Homo sapiens: one gene and its partner. The protein of the gene in region 1 interacts with the protein of each later gene in a biochemical or structural test. Each region holds a gene or a part of one and is shown in the gene's direction. Other genes may lie near its edges.

Region 1 (16,739 bases):
ACCATCCCTGGAGGAGACCTGGCAGCAGGTGAATGATTTAAATTACTTGTGTAAATCGTGTGGTGGCGGCGGAGACGCAGGGGCTGCGTTGGTGTGGGCTCTGGGTTGAAATTTTTGTTTGTTTGTTTGACTTTTTTTTCTTCCTTTTTGGCTGTCTGTTGTTGAAAATGTTTTCTGAAACAGTCATCTGCGCTTACCTCTCCACCCACCCCTAACCTCGTAGAGTGCCGAGCTGAGCAGCCGGTGCGAGCTGCCTGCGTTTCAGTCGCCAACACACATCCCTGCGCACACGTTGTCGGGTTTGCTGTCCCCTATCAGAGACCTGCCGAACTTCTGGGGTTCGGAGGAGCCGGGTGGGAAGGTGGTTTGGGGTGTTAGGAGCGATTGCTGACAGGGACCACGTTCTCGCATGCATGAGCTCTACCCACTTGATACCTGAAATCAGGTTCATCTGTTTCAACTGGTGCTTATGACCATCGGATGGGGGGCGGGGGAGGGTGGGCAGGAGCAAAGCGGAGTGTTTTTCAGTAATTAGCGAGTGTCAATAAAGAATAGGAGCTTGATTTTGAGATTAGAAGGTAGGCAAAAGAGAGAAGAGCCCACTGACAAAAGATACTCAAGGAGGACGGGAAGATGTAGCTGAGGCTGACAATGAATTGTAGGTTTTCCCAGTGTGATCCCTCCAGAAAGAGAACACCCTCTATGCGTGTCCTTGTTTCTCTTTTTTGTTTAGGGTCCTTCTCTAGTTAGGCAGCACAACCTCGGACAAAGGCTGATGTGTGCTTCCATGCCTTTGACTTTGTCTTAGAGGACTAGTTAAGAAACTCCCAGGATGCTGAAGGGCACCGATGCCAAGTTGGCTAGCCGTCCCAGGGAGGATGAAGTGGGGCTGGTGACAAGTTCACTGGGCTTTGTGAAGTGGAATAAAGAAAGTGCTGGTCAGTGGAAAGTGCTGGCTCTGCTGCGGAAACAGTGGTTTTTTTCAGCAGCGATTAGGAGCTGCTGAGGGGACATTCTGCAGGAAAGATGGTGGGTGGGGGCGGGGGGACACGGGTATTTAAAAATTGTACAGTGTGCACCATGGAAAGTCCAAGAAGACAGTCCGGATTTGCACATAGGAAGTGTGAACTTGTACAGTCCGTCCTGGAGAAACCCGCTTGCCCTTGGGGGGAGGGCTGTGAGAGGCTCGGTGTGTGGCTGCTCGTGTAATTTCTTCGCTTAGTGACAGCAGCTTGTTAAGGCTAATGAACGGCTGAATTTCCTCTGCCGGGATCCAAAGCAGGATTTGCCAGCTTGAGGCTGAGATGTAACAGTCTCTGCTTTAGCAAAAGAGGTTTGGCTTTTGGTATAAGGAGCCGAGTGGCAAGGCGGATCCTTTAACTGTACCATTGTTGCTAGTTCACTTCTGGTCAGAGGCTGTGAGTTTTCCTCCAGGTATTGGCGTCTGGTGTCTCTGTGTCCACACATGCATTCTTGTCCAAGGACGCTAGCAGATGCTTGACTCTGTCTCTCTGTAAACACATACACAGTTCACATATTTTTAGAATAAAGTCTTTCTTCAATGCATCCTTTTCCTTATCCTTAACGAGAGTGTGTCTCATGAAGGGTCTCACTGGATCTTTTTCTTCCTTTTATTTCCAATGCTAATTAAACCAAAATCTTCTGAAATAGCCTTCATTTCACACTGTCAGCCCACTGGTATGGAATCGGTTGCATATTAACAACTGTCTAGACAGGTTAGAGAAGGGAATCTGTTGATTTAGTCAGCCTGCCCAAGGCAGCCCTTGTTTGTGACTAACTGTTAAGCAGTGTTAGAAGGAAGAAAGTTGGCTTTATTTGTTAGAACGTTCCCTACTGATGAATCATGCAACTTTGTTTTGGTTCAAGTTTTCAGAGTAGTAAAGCCAGATTTGGAGGAAGGTCTCTTCACAGGAAACCTGCTTTTCTAGATCTGGCTAGACCATCCAGGACAAACTCTAGATCTGCAAAGAAACATCATCGGTTTGACAACTAGAGGATGTATTAGATCTATTGTTTCCTAAGAAGCCATCTCTGCTCTTCCTTCTCCCCTCCTCCCCCTGCTCCTCTGCCTCCTCCCCATTCAGGGAAGCTCTAGTTTAGTTTCTACAGGCAAAGGATTTTTCACCCCTCGGAACCCCCTCATTTTTTGCCTTAACCCTCTCCAACTGCCAGCCACTCTCACCTTAAAACCCTTAGCCAACTTATTCAGCGTCATGCTTATAGCCAATGCTGATGCATAGCTTGTGGGGAAGCACTAATAAACAATATATCACTCCAGTGAGCTTTATGTTCTGGACTCCGTAATCACAACTGCTCTATATAAAGGCGACTAGGACCATAGGTTTACACTGATGACAAAACCTTTAACCTCTAGCCCTTCCTTCTTCCCCCTCCCAAAACCGTCTTGCTGCTTCTGAGTATAAGGGGTGGTGATGGTGATATGCAACTGTTAGTTCCAAATCAACTATCGGATAATGAAATTTTGAGACTCTTTTGCTCAAAACAGCTCAACAGGGTTTCTGCAAAGAACCCCAGACAGGAAGAAGTTTCTTTATGCTCTGGGGTAATCAGATTTTAGAGGTCAAATGAGGAGTAATTATTAGATGTTCTTCTTAAAGTGAACAATGTACCTGGGCTCATGGAGATGAGCAAAATGTGGAGACTCTGATAATCTGACTTGGTTTCTAGAGAAAGAGTGGCTTCGATGATAAACTCAAGAACATTTTTACGTTTGAAAATTGAAGATAAACAATTTGGGGATTTTATTTTAAACTTAGGATATGGGATAATTGTCCTGCTTAATAGTCAGTGAGCCTGTGACAAAGTCACTGACTGTGGCAGGGCTCCCTCTCGTCACGGAGATCCTCGTTTTGACATTGGATTTTCTGGCAATGATGCCTTAGCCACATAGCTCCAAGTCTGAAAATAATCGTTGCTGGTATAATTCTGAAATCCAAATGGACATCACACATTAACAGCTCTCCATTCCTGGGCTCTGACTGCATACTTAAGCACTCGGCCCAAGTAACATCATCTTTCTGCCTGTCATATAACTGTAAATTACACTGTGCTTATGTGGTCTATTATTTTATAGAATTCAGCTGACGCGCAATTCTTAAGACTACCAGCCTTAAGCGCTTTGAAAACTTGTAGGAAAATTTCCAAGAGCTGTCTGAGCAAAAGTAGGAAAAGGTCAAGGGTAGGACAGAAACCAGAGTTTCTTATGGGGTACCACTTGATTATGAGTAAAGGGAAACTCATTCATGACTTTTTTTGCCAATAGAAATCATAATCTTTTTTTTTAGACACACTGCTGACTTGGAAAATAAAAAGAATTTGATACAATGCTTTTATTTTCTTCTTGAATATACAAAGACTTTTAGAACTTTTATATGTTTTATCTCTAGTCTGCTATTTCATGAGTGCAGGTCAAGCAGTGATGATCTAAGTCTTATTTGGACTTAGCTTTGCGTCGTGTCATTGAGGAGCATCGCATGTTTGCTTGAAAAGTCTTATGGAATTATGTTTGTTGTTAATGCTGATTCATAATTGGCAGATGGGGTCAGTTTCAGGCCTCTCTTTGCTCAGAGAAAATTTTCCACTGCTACTGGAAACAAATAAATAAATCATAGAACATTCTTCTCTCCTCCCCCATTCCCCTATTGTTTTAAACTAATGGCATACTTGGCTACTGTAAGGACTAAAGTGTCCCCATAACACTGCAATTTCATCTTGGTTTCAGGCACCCTGAAACACTTTTTATGAGGGCCTTTGGTATAAGGAATCTCTAGGGGAAAACGTACAGAAATGGTTGCATTCCAAGAACAGCCTCATGGTACCAGGGATGGGATTTGGTCTGTGAGCCACATTGCTTCTCCTTTTATGTGAAGATCTTGCCTTTGCACTTCCTTCTGCAGGCCTGGGCTGCCAGGTGCTATATCAGCCAGGAAAACAAAGCAAACTGTAGGGTCTGTCCATCCGTAGGTTTGCCTCAGTCCCCAATTCGCAGATAGCCTTGTCATGAATTAGAATTTCTTGGCAACAGCACCACCCAGGGAAATTTGTAGACACAAAGGAGCCTTGCTAGCCACACTGAAAGGATAAAATAACTGTTTTTTTTTGGTATGTGATTTGTGTGTTCTTCAGTTACTGTAAATCTGTTTCTTTATTTGAAACAGCAACTTGGTAGATGAAATAAAAATATAACTGCCCGTTACCCAGAATTTATCTTTATGAAGATGCAATCACTAAATAGATGTAACTCTACAAATGAAAGCACATGTGACTGCAATCAATCACACACTTAGCCTTTAATAGATTCATTTCCATGTTCCTTTAACAGACACATCTTTGTGTAGATTTAGGGGCTTCAAACATTATCATTCAGTCTACCTGTTTGCAGTTTGGTATTTTAAAGTGGGCAAACATTATAATGCAGTTATTTTTTACTACATCTGTCCTTAGTAGGGGGAAAAGGAGGTCACTATTCTTTGTTCTCCATGAACTTCCCACCCCCACTCCTTACCCTGAGGAGAATGGGATGTTGGGGTCCCATCCATTTAAAAGGCAGAGCAGAAGATGCAAGATGACAGCCTTGCCCTGAAATGATTTATGTATGGGTGTGTCAGAGACCTTAAGCATCCAAATGTGGGCTGCTTCTTTCTGCCAGCCCATTCTAAACATAAATGCCAGTGGGGGCTAATTTGCCTCTCTACTTAAATGGAGATAGTTCAGAGAGGGTCCTAATGGGGCCTTTAATAGCCATTCTTTTATGAATCTTCACATTGTACTCTCTTCAGAGAATTCTTGCGTTTTAACTTTTGGAGTACAAGAAGACATTGCAATCTTCTTTAATTGCTCTCTGTGCCTGTTGAGGAAAGAAGAATACAATTTCCTCTGGCCAGTCCCATCTGGCTCAAGTTGATAGGATAGCTGGTCTGATTCCAGACGGGGTCGGTGGATACCCCTTATCTTTTCATTTTATAGTATTGTGCAATGGGCTTTTAATTATCTTTGCTGGACCCCACGACTGGCAAATGCAGAAAATCGCTCTGTGATTCCAGTTCACTCGATATATCAGTTAGCCTATGTGTTAGAACTGCGATTTGCTGAAAGTTTAGGACAGCTCCCCAACTTAACTTGAATGGTGCCAGAGGGTGAGGGGCAGAGATTTCCTCTGTCCAGTAGTCCCTTTGTTCTCCCAAATCAACTGACTGCTTGCTTAGCATAAACGATTGGGGGTAGGGGGGCGGAATGTTTTAACCCCAAAATGCCGAATCTTACCAAGTACAGTGATTAGAAAACTCAACTACTAATGGTGTTAAAGTTGGTGAAACAAATTATAGTGTCTAATTATTCATGTTACATGTAACATTGACAAGTTAAAAAACACTCCTCTCTGTATACTCATTGTAGAATATACATATCCTTATTCTATCTAAAATTCCCCAAATAAACAAAATGTTGCCATTACTGGGACATGCTTTTACCTAAGATTGTTTGTGATTTTGCTGTGCCCCACCTTGCCCAGATTAGTTCCTGCTAATTGGCAGAATTATTTCTACCACCCTACATCCCTTTAGTTTTCCTTCTCGGGGTATTTGGTGTGACCCTAAGAACTTGGTCCCGTTTAAACGACTCATGTCCATCCCCCCTCCATTCGAGCAGTACCACATGCTTGATATATAAATGTTACAGCTGAGCGTTTGCAGTAGCCTTGAGATCTGAGTCTAGTATCAGCCCAAATGAGGTGCGAGTGACTTCTGATTTCAGGGGGATACCATTCTTCATTGAGCTGGTAGATGGACCTAGTCACACTTTGTGGGATTTTTGTTGTTTATATTCAAGTATAGAAAATATTCCACAGTAAATACTTCATTCCTTAAGCCCTTTTTATGTGCATAATACTGTATTTGGGCAATGCAAAATTGAATTGGATATAGAATCTGCCCTCTAGGAGCTTGACTGTAGTAAGGCAGAGAAAGCATGTTCAAAATTAAGTTAAACAGAATAGAGCATGAGTGCCAGAAAGAAGGAAAGAAAGAAAGAAACATTCAGTTCTGTGTTGGAACACTGACCTGTGCCTATCTGTATTACCCACATAGTTCCAACCTTGTTTATAAAACATACTTGAGATTTACTAAGTTCTGTTGTGAAAAAGCTTTCAGCCAATGTCATGTTGTGGGCTGGATACTTTTAGGGCAGATGAGTATACAATGTGAATACACATATCCATAATGGCCAGGAAACAGTGCCCATGTCTGTGCCATTCGGAAATGATTAGAGGTAATTAAAATAACGTAGAGCCATATGCGATATCTATTTTTGAATGTGGGTGTATTGACATTTCCTGAGGGTCATTTTGAAAGTCAGGTTCTCAGCCTTGTACCAAAGCGAGGAACATAGAATCTCAGAATTTCAAATCTTGAAAGGGTCTTGGTTTCCTCAACTCTAAAATACTGGGTTGAACTAAGTGATTGTTAAAGCCAGATGAGGCATTGCACTCTCCAAGGTCACACAGCTTATTAACACTGATGGTTTCAGGGCCCAGGACTCTCAGATGCCCAGACCAGTTTACTTGCTTTCTGTCACCTGAATATACCTTGACTCACTTCTGATTCTTTTCTCTTTCTTTTTTGCCTTCAAAGGAGGCAAGAAAATTCCCTTTTTACTTTTAAGACTACTGGTTCATGGAATTTTGGGATTGGCTAGGTTCTAGAACAAGTTATCGAATATTTTGGAGAAGGCTTACTTGTGTAATTTGATTCTTTTTCCACTTTTAATGTGTGCTAAATTGGAAAATATACACTGTACCGAAAAAATAGCCCCAGATTATAACTCGAGTCTTATAAAAATTATTGTCATTTAAATAATAACAAATGGAGTGGGAGTATGAAGGGTGTGCAGTGGGGCATATGTGGTAGGGGGTTGGATGGAATATAGAACTAGATGGAAGTAGAAAGCAACAAACGTGAAATTGCTTTGTTTCTGGCACCTCACCAACAAAGAGAGTGCCCGAAACTTTACCAGCAACCCATGTACCAGTTGATGAAAATCTTTTTAAATGTTTTTAAATTCTTGAGAGGGTTGTAATAAGCAGTAGTGAAGAAACTCAACCTCTGAGAGGTTTTTCAAAAAGTCTTTTGAGGTCTGATGGATGAAGTAGGCCTAATTTTTACCATTGTCCCTAATGAGGAAAGGAAAATGGAAGGCTCACTTGACTTTTTTGCCCCAGTTTTTCCCCAGTTACTTTTTGCCCTTCCCTACCTCCTTGAATTGGTAGTTATGATGGTGAAAGTTCTCTCCCAGAATGTGTCTCACAGATCTCTTTCACCTCTAACATCTTAGAGGTTAAAATCTCCTTCCCAGTTCAGGGCTTCTTCATCTCCTCACAGCTATACTCTACATCTCCACCTCCAGATATTTCCCTGGGTTTCAGGCCCTCATTTTTTTCTAACCAGAAATAAGCAACAAGCAAGATGGGCTTTGGGGTTGTTCTACCATCACTTCAGCTGAATATGTCCTAAACCCCTAACTCATCAACTTCTTCCACGGACTGCTTCCTTTTTCCTGGCTTCCCTATTTCTTTTAATAATGTGATTATTCGTCTCATGATCTAGGTTTGACATTCTAGTCATTGTAACTCCTTTCTTTTTCTTGAATCTAATAAAAAATTAGGTGAAAAGATCTAATTAGCGGAAGTCTAAAATTAGTTGAAAAATCCCACTGACTTGGCTTCTGAGGTGCTTTAGCATCAGCCTGTCATGGATGGCACCCTTGGCCATTGCCTTGCCACAATCCCTGTCACCTCCCTGGACTTGCCTTTTTGCCACCATCACCCCAGGTGGCCTGCTTTCAAACTGTTCATGGCTCCCTCTTATACATAGCATGAGGCCAAACTTCCAAGAGTCAGGGTGTTCCAAGACTGGGTCTACACAATATTTGCAAGTTCCCCCCTTTTCACATGTAGTAAATGCCATCCAAATTAAGTGACTATGCTTTTCCTGCTTCTGTCTTTATTTTTGTTGTTTCCTTTAGCCTTTTTCCTCTTCCTCCCTCTCCCCTTCCTGATTTTCTTTGTCCAAGTTCCACCCATTCCTTAACTTTCAAATGGGTGCCAAACTCCCTCCCTTGCTACCAGCCAACTGTAACTGCTATGATTTCCATACTCTTGTGCAGAGCTTTTTACTTCCCCGTGATGCTTTACAGTTTTGAGTTATAATAAAGCTTTTCTTTTTTTTTTTTTTTTTTTTTTACTTTTCTGTTGTGTCATTTTTCTTGTTAAGTTTATGCTTTAAGGAGTTGATGCCTTGCGTATAGTTTTGGTAGTCAACTTTTAATGTATCACCTGCTTCTTAGAAAGCTTTGCACACTGTGGGCACTCGATAGTTATTTGAGGAGCATGTTATGACTATGACTTAAGATTTGACTATGCCTTTTTCAGTGGTTCTCAATCGTGGCTGCACCCCAGACCAATAAAATCAGTATCTCTTTGGGAAGGACCCGGGCATCAGTGTTTGTAAAGCTTTCAGGCAATTCCAGTATGCAGCCAAGGCATTGAGCCATTGGTGTATAGAGGGTTTAATGATATGTCAGAGTTGGGGTTACCTGCTTCTTATATTGAAATATTTAATGACTTGTGTAATTTGGAATCCACACGGACCAGAGGTTTATAGTAAAACAGGATCATGCTGGTGGATGTGCTTCATCTGGCACTTTTGTTAATAGCAGCTGCCCAAGTGTTGTTTCATCCTTCTTGCTTTGCTTTCCCTCACCCTAAAGTGTCTAAGGCAGTCTGTTTGGCTCACATTTCCTGTGACCCATCAGGAATTTGCTTAACCTGGTCAAATTCCATATTTGGAAACTTTGTGGTGTTGGGCTTTAAACTCCAGCCTTGCTGGGTTTCAAACAATTCATTCTCAGTAGGCCCTTGGCCATGATTTTCCACTCACCTCAGCCTGCTCCATGGTTTGAAAGGGCTGGATGCATGCATGTACATCTGTTGGATGATGCTGGAGAGGCATTAGGTAGCAGCTCTCCATTTTCTTACTGACCAACCACAGTGTTTGGAAGTAGACTCTGTTTATAAAGAATTTCAGAGGATCCATCTTTCTAGTAAGAGGAGCAAAAATAAACTGTGGAAGAATTGCTGCTGAGGACATTCCGGCAAGGAGGCTGCCTTCACACCCATAGAAGGCTTAGCTCCTGTGGTAATGACTGTGGGCGTGTGGTGATCTTCACAAAGAAGCCTTAGAAACGCCTCTTTTTCAAACTGTGATGTTTGCAAAATTGTATGTCCTGTAGCTACATCCTTTCATCTGTAAACTGTCTTTGATGGGGGTATGGTTGGCAAGAGAGAACATCAGGAGAGGAGCTCAGAGCTCAGGGTTGAAGGATGCCTTTTGGAAAGCTCAACCCAGCTGTGAAAACGGCAATTAGCCGTGGAGCAATTGCCCTGCAAGGGAGTGCCCACCTGCTCTTGACGCCGTTCTCACATTCACCTTCCAGAGCCGAGTTAGCAGGAATTCAATGGAGTGGTCATAACATTGGTGCTTATTTTTGGAGAGGCGGCAAATTTGCTCAGCATACAAAGGAGTGGAAATAGATTCTTTCCACCCCAACACCCCCTGCCTTTTGAGCTTTTAGCCTTTGTTCATATGGGCACTACAGACCATGTTAGTGAAGTGCAGCTTCTGACTATGGTGTTGAAGGATGTCTTCTGTGAGGCCCTATGCAGAACTGATTCCCCTGAGAGTGATGAGATGCTGCTTAAGGTCAGACCTGAGTCGACTTCATTTCTTCCAAGATTGTTCAGCCCTAATTTGTACATTCTCCTCCCCTTCTCAAGGTTCTTGCTTTTCTTTAATACGGATCAAGAGATGATTTCCTCTGTGATGGGTCTTTTTATGTTTGCATATGAGAATGTAACAAACATCTGTGTTGAGCCTTTGTTCTGAAGGGCTCAGGGTGTTTTGCTCCTGGTCTTTTGTCATTGGCACATTCTTTCTTTAACTAGGGAGCAGACAGATATTACAGAATTTCCCATTCAGGGGTGAGAAAATGGGGCACAGGAAGCTTAAGCAAGTTGTCTTACTGTGGCTGCAAAGCAAATGAGTTGCAAAAAACCATTGGTGGAATAAATTTTCTCTTCCCTCTTTCCACTTGGCTAATCTTCCTGTCATAAAAATAACCATCATAGTACTGTCTCATATGTATCAGACACTTCCTAAAGATGATCTCATTTGAGCACCTGTATCCATCATTTCAATGAATGCTCACAACAGCTCTATGAAATGCGTATTCTATTTATCCCCATTTTACAGATGGAAAAGCTGAGATTTGAGGTATTGAATGGCTTGCTTAAAATCATACAACTTGGAAGTATTTGAGCTGGGATCCAAGCCTCAGCAGGGCCCAGCACTCTTAATTGTTACATCTATACTGACTGCTCTTTAGGTAGGGGACATTAGGGCAGAAGCCAAAGGTCGTGACCTGGCAGTCAGTGGCCCAGTATGGATTCCAGTAGTTCATTGGTCTGTCTTCTTTCTGGGCTTTGGTTTTCTTATCTGTAAAAGGACTGGACTGTGCGAGGCACTTTTAAGGTCACAGTGTTTCATAGTAGACAAATTACATGAAGGATTTGAAATCAAGCAGAGGTGGAACCTTGAGAAAGTCACTTAACATCTCTGAGTCTTGTTTGTCATTTGTGGAGTTCTTAATTCCTGATAAGAATCAGCTCTCTGACCTAGTGTCTGGCACATAACATCCACTCAACAAATGCTCTTTCCTTCCCCATTTTCCTCTCAATAATAATACACAGAGGCACAATGCTCTTTCTCTCAGTGGTGTCTTTCGTGTCTTGAAGATCCCAGTGAGCCTGGAATGCCCAAGAGACAATAAATGATGGAAGGCAGGGGAAAGCGGAATGCTGGGCATTGGATATGGTATACCTTTTATCCATCCACAAGGGAAACTTTCATTAAGTAATTTGTGCTTGGAACTGGGGGAGGACTAGCAATACCCTTTGTGCCCGGAAACTGGGCCTAGTTTGACATCCTTGGAATTTGCTTGGCTTGTTCATGCAAATGTCCAATCTCTTCCCCTTTCTTTCTGTCCAGTCTGACTTATGACTTACGTATCTTATGTTTTTCTAGCATGCAGTTATTTTTTTTAAGAGCCAGAATTAGGCATATATAACATAATACAGTGCCGGTTACTACACCTGCCATTTCTGCCTTACCTGATGACTGAGCTTACTGCAGCTTATGAGAGTGAATCAGGTTTTATGAGATCTATAAATATCTCAGATCGGATTTTTATTTCATTTTCCCCCTTCAAATAAGACATAATGGAAGCACTCACATACATAAGGAATATTCTTTCTGTGATAAAGTAGGGTGTTTTTGAATTGGCCTCTGAAAAGCAATAATTTGATGTGGTTGTTCCTGTTGAGAGTTTTATGGGGGAGGGGAAGAATCATGCATATGCTGCTATAAAACTCAAAAGATTATATCTTCATATTTAAGGTTTAGCCTAGCACCTATGGAGAGATTTATTTCAGAGATGCCAGCCCTGTGTGAAGGCTGCATTCTCTCCTTCTGTAGATTATATATTTGTGTTTTCTTAGCTACAGAGAAACCAGGGAAGGAAAGTCCCATTGGCTAGCAGGAGGTGGGCTCCCCAAAGGAACTTTTCAGTTCTTTGTCTAGTCTCTTTCCAGCTGCCCCAAGGGAGGATGTTCTCATCTTTCTCTCTACTTCATGATTTTCCTGCAAAGATTTTCCACTACTTGATATATCTCACTGAGGTTTTTTTTTCCCCTGGAATTACACTTAAGAAAAAAAAAAAGATTCTTAATAGCCAATACCAGGAATGGAAGTTATTTTTCTCACTTTGCTCTTTGAGAAGCATCTAGAAGGAAACTTGAACACCTAACTTTAAAAAATATATTACAAAATAAACCATGACACAGCCATGGTAAGTGTCTCACTTTACCTCTCTGTAAAATCAGCTCTGTTTGCCATGTCTGACTCAGGGCAGTAAATTTAACTATAAATTTAACTATTGTTTTTGAGAAACAAAATGTCTGACTCTGAACCTTTCATTGTTGTTGTTTTTTCTTTTTTAGTACGACCTCCCTCTATTTCTTCCCCCAGTTCTCACTAGCTTTGTGTTTAACTAGATGATAATTTAATTTGTTCTTAAAAGAATAAACCATGTGAACTGAGTATACCTGAACCAAAGGTGTGCGGAGGACTTTGGGTTAATGTCATTTTTATTTTTGCTGTTGTTTAACATCATCTCGGTGTGTAACATAATCCTAGCACTTTGGCTTTGCTGTATACACTCGCTGCTCTGTGGTTATCATCAAATGATGTGACTTCTCTAGTCCTCAGTTTCCTCATGTGAACAGTGTAGGTAGATTTAGGAACAGTGAGATTATCAGACATACAAACAGTAAGCTCCTAGACTGAACTGGCTTGAAGATGTGTTTTATTTGGCCGGCATGCATATTTCAATTCCCTTTAATTTGAATGCTTTTAGACAGATCGTGCACTCTTCAATTAACCCTGTCCCCACTATTTCCACCTCGCTTAATTTCTGATCTCTGGCCCAGTGAGCATGCATTTGGGCTTGTGACTAGCATCTCTCTAAGGCACCTTCCGCTCCAAAATGTTCTGATTTGGGGACAAGCTTTATTTATCAATCACAGTCTCAAACTGGCTTGCTTTCTGCTCTCACCCAGAACCATTTTCATTTCCTTTTAGATTTCTCTGCCTTGTTGAGTGTCTTTGTTTGGGATTCTATTTTATAAAGCAATTTCCAAATCGCATCTCACTTTTTCCTAGTCATTCAGGTTCTGTTGTAGATCATCGAAATCTGGGATGGAAAAGACCATCTGGTTCACCCCTCCCCCTGCCTGGGCTTAGCAGTTGCTCTAGAGCATGTTCATTCCTTATTGGTATTTGTAACATTTTCCAATTTGGAAACTGACTGATTTTCCTGAGCATGCAGCCTCTTGGTCTAAGTGGGAGTAAAATGAGACAATACCAAACAATTTTTTTTTCCCATCAGACATCCCTCATTAACAAAAAAGCCTGCTATTGTCACAGTTTCTTTTGCCACTCCCAGAGACCCAGCTGGTCAGTTGTAGTAAAAACTCCGTGTGTGTGTGTGTGTGTGTGTGTGTGTGTGTGTGTGTAAGAAAAACATGTAACCAGTTCTTAGTTTTCTTAGTCTGACATAGAAGCATGTTGTAGAGAATTCCATTAACCGCTGTAACTGCTTATTTTTTTGTGGAAGTGGATTTTATATGACTTGTTTCACTGAGGAAGTGATGCTTTTTGTGTGAAAAAGTCCAGGGTATTATAATAAAGTACTTTCCTGAGAATCAAGTAATGTGTTTTCTTCCTACCCTTGGCACTCAAATACTGCCAGCAAGGCACTTGGCCTTCCTTTTCTAATGCTTTTAGGATGCTATTCTACATTAGGGGTGTTTTTAAAAAGTGTTTTCTTTTATATTGGCTTTCTTACATTACTAAGGATATCATTTAGGTTGACCAGATGGTGATTTTTAGGGTCATTCTTTTCCTGATTAAAAAAAGCCATTTAAAAAAATTACTTGCTGCTGGGTGTTCCTCCATTTTTCCAATCTCCGATTACTTTTTTTTCTTTTTAAAAAATTTTGAGTGCCAAATAAAGGCCCAAGATTATTACTATTTTGTGTGTGTGTGTGTGTGTGTGTGTGTGTAAAATTTTTCAAAACCAATGACTATTTGACTGTGTGAATTAGCTACTATTAAAATATTTCTGAAAAATATTTCTAAAAAGGAAGAGAGAGAAAAAGAAAGGGAAAGGCAGACATTATGTGGTCATAGAATGTCCTTGCACAGTTTTCCCTGCAAAAGAGAACCAGAATGCAAACCAGTTGTCCTCCTACCCAAGATGCGCCTGCCTTTTTCCTCCAGCTTTTGCACCCAGGAGCTCTTTTTTATGCCCCATATTTATAGAGACTAGGACTTCACAAATACCAGAACTTGAGGAGTATTAGACATCTCTTTCCGATCCCTCCCCCCTGCCCTCCTCAATTTGCGGATAACTGGCCTGAGCTTCAGAGATCATTATTTAAGCCCAAGCCAGTATTGGACCCTCAAGAATTGTGAGCCTCCTTGCAATATTTTAAACATATTCACATGTTAACACAAGGCATGGTGCAACATGGCTGAGGGAACTGCTTCTCGAAGGGTGGGCTGAGTTCCACAGGGCTTCATAAGCGCAGTGTTGATAACACAGAATTACCTCGGGAGGCAGTTTTATTCCCATTGCTGTTTTCTTTCAGTCCTTTTAACTCAAGGAGACAGTCAGCTTTGAGGTGCCATGTCTTTAACGCCTCTCTAAGGCTTGGTAAACTCTCCTCACCCCTCCTTTTCACCCTCCCTCCCTCCCTTCCTTTCTTCCTTTTTTTTTTTTTTTTTTTAATAAAGAGAACAGGTCTTACACTCAGAGCTTTTGACAGGCAAACCTCCAGTTGAAAGTTTGTAATATTGTTTTGATTTTGTTGTTTTTAATTTTATGATTATCTTCTATTAATGAACATTTGCAGGAAAAGAATTTAAAACACATGCAGCCTTAATATATAATGCCTTAGTGAGGCAAGTAAAAATGAAAACAATAGGGGAATGATTGTACAGATGGAATGCTGATTTGGTAAAAATCCGTGAAGGTGAAATGAAATTGAAGTTTGAAAAATACCGGTGTCGTGGAAAATTCAAGGGATTTGGCATCAGAAAACCTGGAATTTAGTCCTGACTTTATCAGTATAAAACAAAGCAAATTATTAAATTATATTTCCCATATGAAGTGCAGGGCTTATGATAGTAGGATTGCTCTAATCAAATGCTATATGGATGTGAGAGTGCTTTGTAAACTGTTACATGCTGTACGGTGTAATTGTTTTCTATTCTGCAGTGGGGGAGGCTTTTGTTTCAAGCCTTAAACTATCGCTTCTTGTTGGCTTTCTTCCTCTTTATGATTTCTATTCAGTTTTCCGAGCAGGAACTTAGTGACTTTTTATTTGTTCCAGTGGGGCTGTTACTTGAACCTTAATTGTGGTACTTTGAAAAATTTCCTACTGGTTGTCTAAATGGGGACGTAAAACTTTGTAATTTATTTCGTGTGTATTCATGTGTGTTTGCTTTAAGCTAAATTTTGCAAAGTAAACTTAGTCTGTGGAATACAGTATTGTATAACTATTGGATAGATATAATATGCTTCTCTTTAGTTTTTAAAATACATTCTTAACAATTGTATTTTACCACATTCATGAAACAATCATGTGCATTTGTATATGTCTGTATGTGTGTGTGGTTGTGGGGGAGGGTGGTAGTGGTATTCAGGGATGAAGGAAGTCTGGGTTTTGGGTAAAACTGAGAATTCTGGGGACTATTTGCTTCTGAAAGTAGACATCTGTGTGGCTACAGTGACTCATTAACAATACACTGTCACATGTTGTTAGATAATAAGAAGACGGGGACTTACCTGGATAGGAAGTCCTGGACTTACCTATATGTCTACGTCCATGGAAGCCTCCTAGTTTATGGCACACTGGGGTCAGAATGACAGAGCAGTATGTTGCTCTTGGAGATGCAGACTCTTGTCCTAGCCCAGGATAAAGTTGGTAGAAGGTTACTGCAGCTTGGAAGGAAGGTTGAACTCAGACCCGAGGACCACATTGACTGTGTTGGCCAAGCCCCTGTGAACTCTTCAAATGAATATGTTGAGATTTACATCCTGCTTAAGACAGGTGCCATACTGACAAGGATTGGGGAGCCCAGGTGTCAGGTACAAAGCTGCACTCTCATACTGCCTTACCTAGAGTACTGGTTGAAATGAAGGCATATCTGCAGCTCTGTCTGTGAGAGGCTCTCCCGATGTCTTCCTGTTGCCAAAACTGTGGCAGGAGTGCCTTATCAACAGTGGACAGCACCACCGCTGAGCAGAGTGTGAGCACAGGAGTCAGCCGGGATGGATCATCAGAGATTTCTTGGACTACTAACAGTGCTGCCAGTAGAGCAGATATGGGCAAGCCTGGGATATGGGCCCAGGAGGCCCCTTTCTCTATGTTAGTCTGGCACCCCTGCTGAACCTCAGCAGTGATAAGTGCTAGAAAAATGTATGGCTAGTCTAGAAGACAAAGGCAGAGCCTCCTGGAGAGAGAGTGACAGCGCTGAGTGGGGGTGTTGCTTTTAACAGATTTTTAATTTTTTCTCCTCAGAAAATTATTGAAGATCATCTCCAAAAAGAAAACACACCAGTTTCTTATTATTGACTATGAAATCAACATGACTGGGTGGGACTGGGGAAAAGACAGATTTATCAGTCCCTAAGAGCTGATGGAAACTGCATCCTTTAGGTGGAACACAGAGTTGGCTGTAAGGAGACATTCCTTTGTTTTTGTTGTCTTGAACAAAAGGAAGGACAGTAGATGACACAGGTAATGACTGGGTATATCATATATTAAGGGCACCAAGAATTTAGAGAATGGGGAATCAGGTGAGGGTGGAGGGGTGATAGGAGATCCCTGCCCCCAAAGCAGATGTTGGCAAAGGAAAAGTCAGAGAGCAGGAGTCATAAAGATGGCCCCGGGGAGTCAGCCTGGTAATGTCAGTGAGTGAGGAAGGCACAGTATAAGGCACTAGAGAGTGGTGGGAACTGTGGTG
Region 2 (16,739 bases), on another chromosome or scaffold:
GTATATAGAATAATGGAAAGACTGGTGGATATTCATACATTAGATATTTGAGGATATATTGTGAGCAAGGACTTGTTGTCACCTAGAGGCAAGATTTTTTAGCAGAAACATGACTAATAAATCACTACACAAACTGCTGTGGAAGCATATGTTAAGTCCCACAGGGAGCTCAAATGAAGGAGTCAGTAGGGGAAGCTTTTACAGAGGACTTACATTTAAGCTAGATTTTTACAGGCAGTTTTCTAGGCAAAGTAGGGAAAAGAAGGACATTTCCAGTCAGAGTTAAAAGCATATTAGGAATGAAACACCAATGGTTGTTTGGGGGAACTAAGAAGATACTGGTCTGCTAGAGTGAGTATACTGAGAGCAAGTGGTAAGGATTGGAAGAAGATAAGATTGGAACATCTGGTGTTTTGAGATTAGATTGGAAATATTTTATCCTCTGAACCAGGATTCCTTGTAGGCCGATTGTTTTGTTTTGCTTGGCCATGTATATTGTACTTCTTAAAAACAATCTGAAAATTTCAAATGATGGAGAATAATATGAAGTGAAAAGTAAAAGTTTTTTTCTGCTTTCCTAAACCTCTGTTATCACTCCTCAAAGGTTACCGGTTAATATTTTGTTGTCTTCTTTCATAAAATGTTGTATGCAGACACAGTATATTTGTCTTTTTTATCATACTTTTTAAAAAAAGTTTTAGGGGGTAATCTTTTTAATTTTTAAAATTATGTTGTTGTTAGAATCATACTTTAGATGTAGTCTGTGTTTTGCTTTTTTCACTTAACACTATAAATCAGGAGACTGTTTTAAAAAGATAACTGGCTTCAGTATAGAGTATAGCATGGTAAGCATTTATTCAATAAATTACTTATGGCAGGCATAGTGTCTGCTAAGCTTTTCCTCGACCCTGAGGATACAGTGATGGGTATCATTTAGGAAGCCATTTCCGTAGTGCACGTGAATGTTAATGGAGTCCCAAAAGGTAATGGGAATGGATGTAAGAACTGTATTGAGATAAAATTGATAAAAATAGCCCATCAATTGTCTGTGGGAAATGAGAAATCAGAATATATTTAGGATGATTTCAAGGTTTACAATTCAGGAATTCAGTAAAACACATTAGGGAAATAGGTGTGTTTATTTGTATATATCTGTGTATCTTTGTTTTGGGGAGGGGGAGGGTTCGTGATATGAAGGAGTTCATTTTGAACATAGTGTTTTTGAAGGATGTTCAAGTTATTGAGGTGAAAATTTCTGATAGGCAGAGGAAATAAAGTTCAGAGCTCAGGAGAGGTAAGAAGTAGAGTTGGAAATTTTTTCTTTTTTTGCTTTTCTTTGTGTGTGTGTGTGTGTGTGTGTGTGTGTGTGTGTGTGTATTTGTAATAGCTAAATCCTTGGGAATGAGTACAATTGCCCAGGGAGAAGAGGGCTCGAGGATAAATTAGCAAAGGAGACTGAGCAGTGGTCATAGAGGAACGACAAGAATCGAGAATATCACTTTCGGAGCCAAAGGATGAGAGGGTTTCAAAGGAGTGGTCAGCGGTGTCCCATAATACAAATGGGTCAGATGGGGAAGCACTGGAAAGAGGCTATTGGATTTGTTGACTACATGTTCAATGTAACCTTAGAGGTTTCAGGAGCTATCATAAGATGGAAAGATTCATTTGGAGGAGGCAGGGCAGTAAACAAGAAAAGGTGGGCAGTGGTTAATCAGAAGCAGGTGAGTTTATTTATAGCTTTTCTTTTAGCTTGGGCAGTTCTGAGTATGAACTTTATTTTTCCGGAGGCCTCTTAGCCAAAATGTGATAGACAACATAGGAGTAAGCTTCTGAGAAGTTAAGACACATGTCACAAATTCAGGGTAGCATAGCCCATATACCAGTCCACACACATTGATTTCTCTGGTTTCTCAGGCCGTACTGGTTAGAAACAACAGAAGAGGGGTGTGTGTGTGTGTGTGTGTGTGTGTGTGTGTGTGTGTGTGTGTGTGATGAGAGGCAAGCATGCTGACAGCCTCAAGAAGTAAATAGCACATAACCTTTCAGTGAGGGAAGAAGAGACCAGAACACACACACACAGGCAGAAGAAATGATGAAGATTTACTTAGCCTAGTAGAGTGTCCATTTACTGCTGAGGCAAAAAAAACCTCAGGAACTGCATATACTTAAAGTACCCTCTGCCCACCAGGTGCCTTTCTCCTAGTGAGTTCTTTCCTACTTTTTGCAGTGTTAATTCCTGCTCTCCCTTCAGTTATGGGCTCAATTGTCTTTCCCTCAGGAGAACCATTAGTGACTCAGGCCCCTTTGTTATATGAGGCTTCACAACTGTGTTTACTGTCTTTGCAGCAGTTATCTCCGTGTGCAATTCTGAGCTCATTTGCGTGGTTATTTAATTGTGTATCTCCACTTAACTCTGGGCCGTTTGTTTACAATGGGCCCAGAGTACATAAGTGGTATTCAAAATAAATGTGCCAAGGCATATTTAAATGAATCTGAATGCACCTCTTTTCAGCTGTCATCCTGTGCCTCCTCCATCTACAAAGCCATTAATATAAAAGAGACCAATATTTCCTATAAACTTCCCTATATCTGTACCAACATTATTAAAATATTCCTAGACAATTTGACAATCAAGGTGTTAACTCCACATGCTGATCAATAGAACAGAAAACCATCTGGGTGCTCATGCAACCCATTTTCTCCCTGCTTTCCCTCTCCATTCCTCCTCTCTCCCCTCTTTTCTTTCTCTTTTCATCCTTCTCTAAAGCTTATTTTAAAAACAAAATATGCATGTGATGCAAAAGTGAAATACCATGTCAATATTCACAAGAGAGGGAGAAGGGATGTTTCATTCTTTCTCTGAAGTTGTATATAAGCTTGTGTTTATTTTTTAGGAGTTCTCTAGTTTTTATCAGATTCACAAAGGGGTCCATGACTAATCTAATCTCTGACTTTATAGGTGAGAGAATGAAGAATTTTAAAGATTGATGCAAGTTTATAGAAATAATTTGGGGCAGAATCAAGATTAGAACCCAAGAATCTCTTCTCCTTTCCACTATGTTAGGGTCAGTCCTAGAAAGAACCACAAGCTCCTGGAGCTGGAAGAGGTTTTGATTCCTCATTTAATGATCACACGTTACATATGAAGAAATTGATACTTGGAGAAATTGAGTGAATAAGCTAAGAAGCAACAGTACAAATTAAAGCACAATACTCATGATTCCTGGATTTTTGCTCTTTCTAAGTAATGCATATTTATATTATCTTCAGAAGTTGATTATCCACTCATCTTGAGAAAAAGATGTTCTGTGCTTTTTGCACAGAACAAATTAATATTTTTATTAATTTGAATGTGATGTGTACCATTATGATACCTCTGCTTGTGTGTGTTTGAAAATAAACATTGTTTAACCTGGGTTTTAGTAGGGGGTGTGTTTTTTTAGTCTACTTCGTTCTGTTTGCTTTTCAGGTACTTTGAACTCAAGTAAACAAAAGGGAAGATTTTCTCGTTGATACTGGAGACTGCACAACAATGGGGCCACGAAAGAAAAGTGTGAAAACATGTATCATGAATAATGAAATTCCAGAAGAAATGACAGCAGATGAAACAAAGGACTATATGAATCAACTTTCACATGAAGTACTTTGCCATATTTTTAGGTAAGATTGTGTTTGGTTGGCTTACCTGCCTGGAATGGATAAGAGCAAACCCTGAGGCAGTGCTGTCTAATGTGGTAGCTACCAGCTACATGCAGCATTTACATTTCAATTAAGTAAAAATGTAAAATTTAGTTCGTCAGTTGCACTGGCTACATTTCAAGTGCTTAGTAGCCATATGTGGCTAGTGGACACGGTGTATAGGACAACAGAGTATAGACAAAATATTTCTTTTGTCACATATAGTTCTGTTGGACAGCCTTTCTCTAGACTGTTAACATTTCTAGGCTTCTTGGGATTTTTATTGGCTAATAGATTTGTTGACTTTTGTTACTGCATTATAACAGTACTGTGTGTTTACACTGCACAATATAAGGCAGTGTTTCTGACTTTTTCTGACTACAACCCACAGTGAGAAACATAACATGTAAGTGATTGTAACTAAGTTTTCTGAGATAATACCCATCATAACTAAATGCAGTGCATACATTAAAGTTGTTTTATGATGAACACAACACAAAAAGACTTCTAAAAAAATTATATTTTTACCCAAACCGCATTATAACAACTGTTTTTTTTTTTTTAAAGGGAAAGCTGTCATTCTAGTTTCCACTGCTCTCTTCTTTCAATTATTGTCCTTATTTATATAATTCAAATAAGCAAATTCTAACATACTTTGTCTCTGAAATTAGAGACCTGAGTTTGAATCCTGGGTCTATTATTTGCTAGCTCTAGACTAATGATAGACATAATAGCAATATTATTAGGATTCAGTGAGATAATGCATTAAACACTTAGCAAACTGAAGCATAAATGCTTGGTAAATGTTAATGGTTATTCTGCTTTTTTTCATATTGCTACATGGTCTTCATAATTTTTTTTTTACTGCTTACTATTCTATGGAATGTATAAATAACATGGTACTTATCATTTCCCTTGTCTGACATCTAGATAGTTTTCAGTTTTTCTGTTTTCTGCAATTATGGTTGCAATAAACTTCTCTAAGCATCTGGATTTTCCATTATTTTAGGTAGTTTACCTATGAAAAATTTCCATATATGAAGTTCTTAGGAATGTTTTGAATTTCTACAAATGAATATTTGCAGATTATGAAGTTTTAAAATAGCAATAACAGTTATTTTAGGAGATCCTAAGCACTGTATTTTTTTTTCTAATATAAATGTGTATGTCATTATTTCCTGCAGTTCGTTATTCTGTGACACATTGTAGTTTTTGCTAGTTCAGTTCTGTCTGGGATTAGAAGACCAAATTAAAATGATAGATTTTTTTTTTACAGAACAAAATGATATTAACGTTCATCTGGCAGAAAAAAAGTCTGTCAGAATAGCCAAAAATTTTCAGAAAAAGAGTCTTGCAACTACCAGATGTTCAATTACATTCTAAAATGTTTTGGAAAAGAAAGCTGGACAGTTGGGTAAAGGAGACAAACATAGGCTCCATTCAAATACATGTGGAGATCTAGTTTATGACAAGGTTGTATTCACATCAGTGAGGAAAAGTTGGGTGGACTATTCAGCAATGATGTCTCAACCTACAAACCATTTGGAGAAAAAAATAAAAGCACATTTTTATCTCATGTCTTACAGCTAAATTCAAAATGGGTCAGTGAATTAAACAAATCCTTCAAAATTCTTTAAGAACACATAGGTAAAATTGCATCTAGGGATAAAGTTGGATAATGCTAGGATATATTGTGAAAAAATTGGACAATATATAATATGTATATATTTTTGAGACAGAGTCTCACTCTGGCTGGAGTGCAGGGTATGACCATGGCTCACTGCAACCTTGAACTCCTGGGCTTAAGCAATCCTTTTGCCTTAGGGGCGCACACCACTGCGCTTGGCTAATTTTTTCATTTTTTGGTAGAGGCAGGATCTTGATTTGTTGGCTAGATTGGTCTTAACTTCTGGCCTCAAGCAATCCTCCCATTTTGGCCTCCCAAAGTGCTGGAATTACATGCATACACCACCACACCTGGCCATTGGACCATAATCTAAATTGAAAATAGATCATATAACATTGTGCAGTTCAAACAGAATATTCAAATGGAAAGGGTAGAATCAAGTCAATATATAATGGTAGTTACAGTGGAGAAAACAGCATTTGACAGCACGTAGAAAGAACCATGAACTTAGTTCTTGAACTTCATGTGTTTATTCTAAAAACAAACAATTTTGTTTCATTTTTTAGTCTTCTAAAATTTTGATTTGAGGATTCATTGTGGTGGTGTAGTAACTACATAGCATGTCTTCATAAAACAAGAAAAACTATGGCCTTCCTTAAAAGAAACCTAATCTTTGCTGTCCCTGCTATGCTCTCTTTTCTAAAGTGTTATATTTGATCTGTCTTCTGAACTCTAGTCCTTTGACTATATAACTATGAAGAAAAAATATGCTACTTCTTAGGGAAAATATGATGTAAAATAATCTTGATTTTGTGATTATTGGTCTGTTTGTATTTAAAGGGAGTAGAATTTTAACCTAGGCAAATACATTGGATAACAATATTTAGGAGAAAAATATTACAGTGGCAAAATTTATTTAGAAAGCAAATTTAATGTTTTTCATTGTTTATAAAATGTGTTGTCATGTTTCTGAAAAATTCTGCTTATAATCTAAGTTATAGAGTAAATTAAGTTATGGCTAGCAGTGATGATTTATTTTGTATAATATTTGATTTAAATCATTTTAAAGGGGTAAGAAGAGGGACGAGAAGTAGAAAAAATAAATGGATCTGCTAAATATTCAACAGGTATATGTGGACTTTTCTTTTAGAATTAGCAGTGTTGTTAAGAGTTAGTGTCAGACAAAACTGTGTTTGCCATTCCTGACCCTTTCTCCCTCTTACCTAGCCATGTGACATTTTGCAGGTTTAATTCTTCTGAGCTAATTTCAGCACTTATAAAATGGAGTAATAATAGTGTATACTATGTCAGTGAAGTGCCAGCAGATAACAGAAAATACACTTACCTGGAATTTGAAGATAATTTAATGAAGGGACTATTTACAGAGATGTAGATGGAGTTTAGGGAACAAGTAAGGGATGATGAAGAATTTGTCTAGGGGATTAGCAGCAGTAGAAAGGCAGCATTGCCACCTGGAGCCCTCCAGCTGGTGCATCTCATTGGCTAAAGTTAACAGCCAGAGAGGGGTAGGGAACACAGCAGGTCAGAGAGGGGGAGATAAAGGACTGGGAGAGAGTTGTATGCCAAACAGGAACCAGCTAGTTACCTCTTAAGGTTGTTGTGAAACAATGAGTAGAATGTGACGCAATACAGGTTCAGTAGGTAAAGGTAGCTTTAACTTTTCAAAACATTTAATTAATCTAGGCATGTGTGGAGGGGTCTTAAGAGAAAAATAGACCTTTCAGAATATATAACAGAACAAAAGTCAGGATTAATTGAAAGTTTCAGGAAAAGATAATAAAGAAGAATGGAAAAGAGGAAGTTGTAATTCACATGAGGTGTCTTAATACTTTACGCAATACTTTTATCAGTGTATGTGACCTTAAAGGTTAAAAAAAAAAAAAAAATGGGAAAAGAAATTGTGTACTATATGACTAGTATACATATTTGTTGATGGAGAAGATAGTAGAGTTTGCAGGAGCAGGATGGTGGAGTTGAGAGGGAGCAGAATGTCCCTGCAGGAGTAGATTCTGTAAAAGATACGAAATAATATTGTGCATGTTCAAATTGAGTAATTCTCTCTGATCTTTCTCAGGTTCCTTTCTCATCACATCTTGAAAAGCACTGTTTTTTTTTTTTTCTTCTTTTCTTTGTTTTTCTGGTTTGTTTTTAGATTTTCTTTGTCCATGAAAACTCAAAAGAAGAAAGGCAGGTTTTATCAAATGACCTGTGGAGGGAGCTCAATACCTTATTTGGATACTCAACTATTTGCTGACTTACCTTTGTAGTAAAAAGCTGTATGACCGTATGTGTGGTAGCTTTAAATCTCTGTCTTAAGATCTTATTTCATTTGAGTGGTAGGAGATTGGAAGAAGGAAAAAAAAATAACTTACTGGTGAGAAGTAATACTTATCCACTTGATAAATACGAGTTTCTTTCTCTCACAAAGGTACCTCCCTCTGCAGGATATCATGTGTATGGAATGTCTTTCCCGGAAGCTAAAGGAAGCAGTGACCCTATATCTGCGAGTTGTGAGAGTTGTAGATCTCTGTGCAGGGCGGTGGTGGGAATACATGCCAAGTGGTAAGTGGATTTAGTCTGTGAAGTACAGTAGTGTCCTACTGGAAAGTAGTAACAATGGTTTCATAAAAAGTTACTTGTTGTCTTGAGAAAGGCAATCTAAGTCACCTTGTAGGCTGGCAAGATTTTGTCTAAATTATTTATGTTGGGTTTTAGGTTGTAAAATGCGTTTTACCTGAGGCTTTATTGTTTTAATAGTCTGCTCTTTTCATTTCCTGTCCTTAAGTAACTATATCAGCCTGTTCCACACATCTGTGATTGGAGAACATGAGCCTTTGGTTAATTGAGTATATGTGTATCACATTAGACACTGTGTGTCCTTTACTGTCTGATGCATGTTTTCCGGTGAATGGTAACAGTTTTCATCATAGATTTCCTCTGCAACTAAACTGCACCCTTTAGTTAAATAAATACTTGCCATTTTTGTAGAATAGGCCACAGAACTCCAATTTCTTTAGAAGACCTATAGTAGGTCTTGGAGATTCTCGAATAAGCCACTGACTGACCTTACAGGTGAAGAACTCAGTAGCTTCCTAACCACAGCAAATTGTTCCCAGTTGAAGAGACCACCTGAAAAGAAAGTTAATGGCTTTAGCTAAGCAAAGCATACTTGAAAGAGTTAAAATAAAAGGCAATTAAGGCTTCTTTTCACTTAACGCCAATCCATTAATTGGTAAAATTTAGTTACTATTGTTTTGCAATTATGAATCTGTCTTTTAAAGTCATCCTTTTTCTATGATGTCCAGATTATGAGACTTCGAAAATGGGATAAGGCTGAGAGGGGAACCAAAAAATAAAAATAAAAAAAAAAGCCTTAATAGAAGTGAAGGGCTGGAGGAGATAATTGTCTTGTTCTGTTCTATAGAACAGAACAGATTAGCTCTGGAATACTGGAATTGTGCAGGTGGATGCTGCATCCTTTCAAGAGAGTCATCAAATCAGTTGGTAACTCTTATCAGCTGGCCATAGTAGTTATCAATATATACTTTCTTATAAAGAACATTGCAAACACCTGAGGCTGGAGCTTATTAATAGGTTTGTGGGAGGCAAACCACGGTTACTTTCAGATATTTAATAAAAGCCATTCTAAGGGCAAAAGCCTCATCTCATCTTGTTTCAGAATGATCCTGTATGTCAGGAAAGAAAAAAAATTAGGGCAGTGTGAAAATGATTGTCTTATTCCTTATATTAGATTTACTTTTGCAAAGGTTAGGCCAGCTGGAATTCTGAAGACGGGATTAACACAGTATATAAAGACAGGATGGCAGAACTCCCATGTGATATAGTCTTACCATTAACATCACTACCACTTACCAATTAGAGAAGAATTTGACTGCATGTTGCTGACTTTTAGGCTATGATAAATAACCTGTGAGCCCAAGGCTTCCCATCTTTGCAATGAATGTAAAAGAGAGTTGAAGCAAACAGTCTCTAGCCTAGGATAAGATCACACTAACCTTGCTCACTAATGCCACCTTGGCCTATTATCTGGCATTTAACTCAGATCCTTTATATAATAGTACTTTATGGTTTACGTATATGATCTCTTTGGATTCTCACTCCATCTCTGTAAAGAAGATAGAACTTTCCCCATTTCTCTCGTGGGAGGCAACATGTATGACAAAAGAGGATAAACATTGCAGGGGTTACACTTGGTTTTAGATTCCAGCACTGCCATTTGGAAGCTCTTAAACTCTCTCAACTTCATTTTTTATGCTTGTATATGGGGTGATAACCTTTCTGATTTGGTTGTGAGAATAAATGAAAAAAAATGATTAACACATTGAATCGTTCAGTCATTAAAAGTTACTATACAAGAAAGTAATAAGAACTGTTATTATAATTAGAGACCAAGTAATCTCTGGTCTCTCCTTACTCTTCACTAAAGTTAGCATGTCTGGACTTTACATGTTAAATGAGATAACTTAAAAATAAAACAACTTTCAAAAAAGTATGTAAGACTTAAATATTTGGGGCCTACTTTTTGTTCTTGACAGTTAATGTTTTTCTTTGTCATTAATAAGCAGACAGTTGGCTTTCTGACCACTTTCATTAAAAATAAAAAAGCCCTTGTAACAGATTAAAATAGGATCTATATGAGACTTGTCTCCCCACTTACTTAACCAACAGCTCCTGCTGTGGAAGTAACCTGCCTCTCTCTGTTCCCATCTTGTTGATTCCTACTATGGTCTCCTGGATAGATAGCTTCCTATCAACAGCATACCCTGAGATTGGATCACTCTGGTTCTCTTAGCTAACTTGCATCTGTCTTTTTCAAAAGAATTAATTGTCTAAAATGGCGGGGGAGTAATAGTTAAACATATGACAGAGTATCAGAGTAATTATTAGAAAATGGATAGAATAATTTGAGATAGGAATTAGGTCAGAACTGTGAGCTTCCTAACGATGAGGATCATATCTTATTTATATTTTTAGTTATGTGTTCTATAGAGTCCTGAAGGTTTTACAGACGAGAGTACCCATGGGGGAGGAGGAGGGTGGTGGTGATCAGGTGGGTGGTCCCACTCCATCCACCAAATAGGTCCAAGTTATCTGGGTTAAAAGTGTGTTCTTTGTTGAAGATTTCTATGCCTTAAAAGCAACAAAAACCAAAAAGTCAATAATAAAAGCCTCCTCCATAAAGTATTAACTTAGATTAAGTGGAGTTTCTGACTCATTTCCTCTGTTACTAAAGGAGTATATTTTCTGTTATGTTTATTCAGCTTTAGTGTTAGCTTTACGGAAATTTGAAGAGGAAGTCTTTTTTAACTTTTGGTAAAAATCACGAGTGCCTAGTAAATGTTAATGAACAGAAAGATGAACCTGGCTCTAAATACTTCTGAACTTCTCAGGCTTTACAGATGCCAGTTTTCTAACACTATTAAAGAAGATGCCAGATGTTGAACAGCTATATGGCCTTCACCCTCGATACCTTGAGAGGCGAAGAGTAAGGGGCCATGAGGCTTTTAGCATTCCAGGAGTCCTAGAAGCTTTGCAGGCATGCCCAAACTTAGTGGTGAGTGCACCTGGTTGAACATTTTGGCATCAACTGTTTATGAAATAATAGACCAAAGAATGATAGACGTGTTCACTCACATGCAAATCTCATCTGTCACAAACTTTTAAGTTCCATTGTGTACTTAGCATCTTGTGGTACATAAAGCTTTGGATGCTAAACTAAAGTCTTTTCTTATGCTTGCTTTGGCATTATTTTCTAGGGTGTGGAAACTTCTCATTTGGAGTTGGTAGAATCCATTTGGACATATATGCCCCATGTTCATATTTTGGGGAAATTTCGTAATCGTAATGGAGCTTTTCCAATTCCTCCTGAAAATAAACTGAAAATTCCTATAGGAGCCAAAATTCAAACTTTACATTTAGTTGGTGAGTACATGTTTCTTGGGTCACTTGTAACTCCTTGAAATGCCATAAAATGTGAATATTCACTGAAAAAGAATAATGAGAATTTTAGAGATGGCTTTGTTGATTGATGATTGCAAAATAAATGTTTGCAAGATCTGTATAAAAATTCCGATTTCCCATTAAAGATCCACTGGTGTGAGGGAAATACTGCTTCACAAGTGTACATTCTCCATCTGAATATTCTTTGAAATTATATACCAGTAACTTCAACTTAAGTAAAAAGTGTAAATATTTTCTCAAATTTGTCACCTTTGGCTTAGGCCACTGAAAGGAATTCGGGGGTCCCTGTTAATATAGCTGGCCTTTAATATTTGTTTACTACTTTATTCTGTATATATACACACACATACACAGAGAGAGAGAGAGTATATGTGTTTTAAGCATTATTCTAGGTATTGGGGATGGTCTAAAGAAGTGGAAATTTCTGAAACTCAGGTGGTACAGGGAGAGCATCAGGAATGATAAGGAGTAGGTCTTAAATAAGACTTAGATACACAATTATGGGAGAAGAGTAAAGATTTCTAGCAACCCTTCATTTATAAGATCAGGGAGTGATATCTAGTTTGAAATTGGATTTTTAGATGTAAAAGGATTCTGTAATATCTGGAATTTATAATATAAGCTCCTTAAGGTCAAAGACTTATTTCCATATCTTTATATTTTCTACAATGCCTGTCACAGTTCATTGCAAATATAAGTACAGGGTAAGTTTTATTAAAATGCATTAATTTATGGGAATCATTTAACAGTTTAACACTGTATTATGGTGATGCAGAGGTGTGGTAAATTAATAAAAATAAACATTACCAGGAGAATGGGCAGTTATGTCCTTTGTTTATAGAGTTTGTTTGAGACAGAAAGTGGTTTGGGCCTGGGGTATACTGTCTTCTCTGCATCTGTCTCACCCTTCTTCCTTGGGTTTCCTAATCAGTACAATCAGTACTACCATCTTCATAGTATTACAATATATGCTAAATTTAACCTTTGTGACTTCTGCATCTTACATCTCAATCTGTACCTCACTTCTGCTTTTTGTCCTTTTGTCTCATCCTTAATTTTACTTCCCATTTGTTGCTATACAATGTGTGTGCATAGTTCAAACTAAATTTAACTCTGCTATTTTGAGAGGAACAAGTTAAGGGGTAATCCTTGTAGGTTACAATAAGAACATTTGGTAGAATTTAGCCTTTATAAACAACTGACCATTCAAGTACTGCAATTTTACATTCTCTAGTTATTCTTGCTAGCAGAGCTCCTATTGTCTCAAATTTAAAAATTGCATTAAACAGTTTTGCCAACTACTGTTTGTTAAATGCCATCATCCTGGATCCTTGGATTTCTTTAATAAATTTGTGTCCCTTCCTTGGCTTTTATCTTCTTTCATCCATATTTCCTGTATTTTTTCACCTCACGCTACACCTCCCTTCTTCTGGTCATGGTCCTCTGTGGATATGATTCCTAGTATTAAGCCACTCCTGGATCCCATGCATCAAATTACCTTTACCAATTTGAAATTCTAAAATAAATGACTGGCAGGTTTCTGCTTTTCTCAGAGCCATGCTGGCTGGCTTCTCCCACACATTTACAAATTCTTAAGATTCATATATTTATAGAAAACAGCTTTTAAAGTTCTGTGTTTGGCTATCTTCCAGATATCTATTTGCATATTTAAACCCATCTAGCTGACTTTGCTCTGAGAAATATAGTTCTCCTACTAGGGGGCAGTGGATGTTGGTAGTCAAATAGTAAATTTGTGTGTTCCATCTCCATCGTTATAGTTTTGCTTTCAGTAATCCATTTTCACTTTACCTCTTCTGGGAAAACGTATCCTAGAAGAGTTGTAAGATTATGAGAAAGACTTACATGTCTAAGACATAGAAATACTTTTTAAACTCTATCTTCCCATTGGCCTTTCCTAAAAAAGTTAAGTCAGTTTATGGTTTACGTAAACTGTTCTTTGTAAGCCTGTTTTAAATAAGGCAAACTTGATAGATTTTGTATAATTTGTTCGGATAAAAATCCTTGAAGGTTAAGCTGTTAATATGAAAAATAGACTCTTGAACTTATAAGCAAAATATAGTATATTTTTGTGATTTTTTTCTTGTTTGTTCTTTTTTATATTTGTGTTTTAGGGGTGAATGTTCCTGAAATTCCTTGTATCCCAATGCTAAGGCACCTTTATATGAAGTGGGTAAGACTCACTAAACCACAGCCATTTAAAGACTTCCTTTGTATCAGCTTAAGAACTTTCGTCATGAGGAACTGTGCAGGTAATGGTACACAATTATGGTGGAATTAAACATAAGTTATTCTAAAAATATCCTGAAGCAAACTCTAGCTACATTTGTAAATACAATTATATTATGCTATTACTATTTATGTCTTATAACATATTCATCTTGTGAAGATAAATGTACTTTTTGTTTTAAAGACATTAGAAAGATGATTTGTGTTTGACCTCAGCAAAAAAAAAAAAACAAAACTCAGAATATCTCTATTTTTTACGGGTACTTTTTACTTTTCCTAGGATTGTTTTATTAAATTTCAGTCTTCTTACTTTGTTTCTGGTCTCCGAATCATTCTGCATGTAAATAGTTGGCTTCCTTAATCTCCCTTAAACATAGCTTTTATGGTATTATCCTTCTAAACAGAAATCTTTAGTGTCCCTGTTGCCCTAGAGCAAGCTTGTTCAACCCACGGTCCACTGGCCACAGCCCACATGATGCCCAATACAAATTCTTAAACTTTCTTAAAACATTATGAGATTTATGCATAGGCTTTTTCTTCTTCTTCTTCTTTTTCTTTCCTGCTCATCAGCTATCTTTAATATCAAGACAATTTTTCCTCTTCCAATGTGGCCCAAGGCAATTTTTCCTCTTCCAGTGTGGCCCAGTGATGTCAAAATATTGGACACCGCTGCACTAGAGCATTAAGTGGGAACTACTCTGCTTAAGGTCATGATAACCAGGACCCCTCTTGATAACCTTATTCTGACACCTTTCCAAGATATATCTTCTTTTATCATCACATTTGACTATTCATTGTTCCCTGGTCAGCCATACAGCTTTCCATCTCAATGTCTTCTCTTATGCTGTATTATTGTTTCGTTATCCTGAGATGTGCACTTTCTTCCTCTGTTTTTGTATGCGTTCTTCAGGTTCTGCCTTTTCCAACTTACTTTTCTCCTCTTTCTTTTTCTTTTTCATGGAGTATGGCAGATCTTATTTTTACACTTGATGCAGTCTGCCTTCTTATCCTTCTATAATTACTTATGTTAGTTCTAGCTCCATGTCAACTGCAGGTTTTTTGATGGACAGGACCATATCTTTTGTGATCTTCTATAGTAGCTAATGCAACACTGGTCATAGAGATGATTAAATGATTGAGCTGTTTACTTGAGTGAAGGATCAAATTTTTATCTTGACTTTTTCCCATTAGTTAGTTTGAGTTCAAAACTATTGAGCCTTTAGAGAATTTACGGAATACTACATATCTCTACAGTGTTACTGAAAAACCTTTATGCTGAGTAAGTGTATGGTTAATAGGCTAACACTTTCATTTGTAACAAGAACCTGATTTCAGAGAGCCAATTTGGCTGTCATTTTAAGACTTAGAGTTTATAAGTTATACATGTCTTTCACTGATTTGAAATTCATTTTAAGGCACTTTACATTGTTCTATCAAAGATTTTTTTTTTTTTCCAGGACCCACAAATTCCTTGAAATATGTCCCTTTAGTAACAGGCTTAGCCTCTGCCCGAAACTTGGAACACTTAGAAATGGTTCGAGTTCCTTTCCTTGGAGGTCTTATCCAACATGTTGTTGAAGACAGTTGGAGATCAGGTATTCATTTTCTTTAATTACTAAATATTTTTTAAAAATCAACTTAAAATAATCATTAAGCTTTTATTTAACTTCCCTGGCAAGTCTTTAAAAAGAAAATGCTCGTCAGTAACTGCTTTCTTTGTTGTATTTGATGGACAGTAAGTAACCATGAGCATAGCTAGTATTCATTTTCTTTTGGTGCACATTAAACTTTCTTAAAATAGACAGTAGAGTGATAAGACATGTTTTCTGGCTTGTTTTGACTTTTATGTAGCTAATAATACCTCCTCTTATGTATGGAATCTTTCTTAGAAATGTTAACAGGGATTTCTAGCGTTCTTTGGTGATGTTTTACAACTTGTACAGCCGAGGCTTCCAAAAAAAATTTAGGCATTAATAATGTTAATCTCTATCACATAATACTTTATAATATAAAAAATACTTTTATACATATTACTTGGATATTGATTTACCCATCAGATGATGATATTTAAAAGAAAAAAGTTGTTCTGTGTATACTTAACTATAGATAAATAATACGTAACAGAATGTGCTTTGTGTTAAACATCTCATTGCAGAAAAAAAATAGTGGTTTAGCAAAATGGATGATTAATAGTTGGAAACCAAAAACTTAACTTTGGCTCTCTAAAATAAAATGGAAAGTCATCAAGTACCATTGTTAACAAACAGACATTATAGTTAATACTGTTGAAATATAATGAAGAGTAAACACTACATTTCTAGACATTTTGTCAGTCAAGTGTGGTATAAGTGTACTTTATTACATTTAGCCAGTGGGATGAAACAACCCCTTAAAACCAACAGTATTTTGATTGATGGCGATAGTTAACAAGATAAAAGTCAAAAACGAAAAGAAGGCTACTGGTGTATTCACTAGAGAGAAGACCTGTAGAGAGGTGCTAAAAGCTGAGTTTGTATAAAGGTCCTAAAAGAAAAACAGAGACTTTTCTTCTCTAATCAGTTTTTAAGGGTGACCCTGCCTTGTATTTTACTCAAGAAGTCAACATACCTCACACAAAAATTTATTCTAGATGGGTCATAGATTCAGATGAGAACAATTTTGAAATGAAATTTAAAAAAATAACTTAGAAGAATGTCTTGTTGACCTTGAGTACACAAAGACATCTTAAACAGGACACCAAAAAGCATTTACCATAAAGAAAATATTGATAAATTGTACCAAATTAAAATTAAAATTTTTTTTTTTTTGTCCATCAAAAGGCATGATTGAGAGAGTGAAAAACCGGCCGGGCGCAGTGGCCCACGCCTGTAATCCCAGCACTTTGGGAGGCCGAGGCGGGCGGATCATGAGGTCAGCAGATCGAGACCATCCTGGCTAACGTGGTGAAACCCCGTCTCTACTTAAAAATACAAAAAATTAGCCCGTCGTGGTGGCGGGCACCTGTAGTCCCAGCTACTCGGGAGGCTGAGGCAGGAGAATGGCGTGAACCTGGGAGGCAGAGCATGCAGTGAGCCTAGATCGCACCACTGCACTCCAGCCTGGGTGAGAGAGTGAGACTCTGTCTCAAAAAAAAAAGAGAGAGAGAGAGTGAAAAACCAAGCTACAGAATGGGAGAAGCTGTTTG

Evidence for each region.
Region 2: the proteins of KLF7 (region 1) and FBXO38 form a complex in vitro, tested with the Homo sapiens proteins (one study listed by BioGRID).

What each region holds. Positions count from the first base shown.
Region 1 is NC_000002.12:207,148,756-207,165,494, reverse strand, and holds part of KLF7 (Krueppel-like factor 7), read left to right. Parts: coding exon 1-28; intron 29-16,294; exon of another isoform or gene 16,295-16,504; coding exon of another isoform or gene 16,505-16,513; intron 16,514-16,739. UniProt on the Homo sapiens protein: Transcriptional factor. Plays a critical role in neuronal morphogenesis and survival of sensory neurons. Represses the corneal epithelium differentiation.
Region 2 is NC_000005.10:148,391,245-148,407,983, forward strand, and holds part of FBXO38 (F-box only protein 38), read left to right. Parts: intron 1-3,469; 5' UTR 3,470-3,532; coding exon 3,533-3,660; intron 3,661-7,754; coding exon 7,755-7,888; intron 7,889-10,737; coding exon 10,738-10,901; intron 10,902-11,103; coding exon 11,104-11,269; intron 11,270-13,440; coding exon 13,441-13,578; intron 13,579-15,012; coding exon 15,013-15,150; intron 15,151-16,739. UniProt on the Homo sapiens protein: Substrate recognition component of a SCF (SKP1-CUL1-F-box protein) E3 ubiquitin-protein ligase complex which mediates the ubiquitination and subsequent proteasomal degradation of PDCD1/PD-1, thereby regulating T-cells-mediated immunity.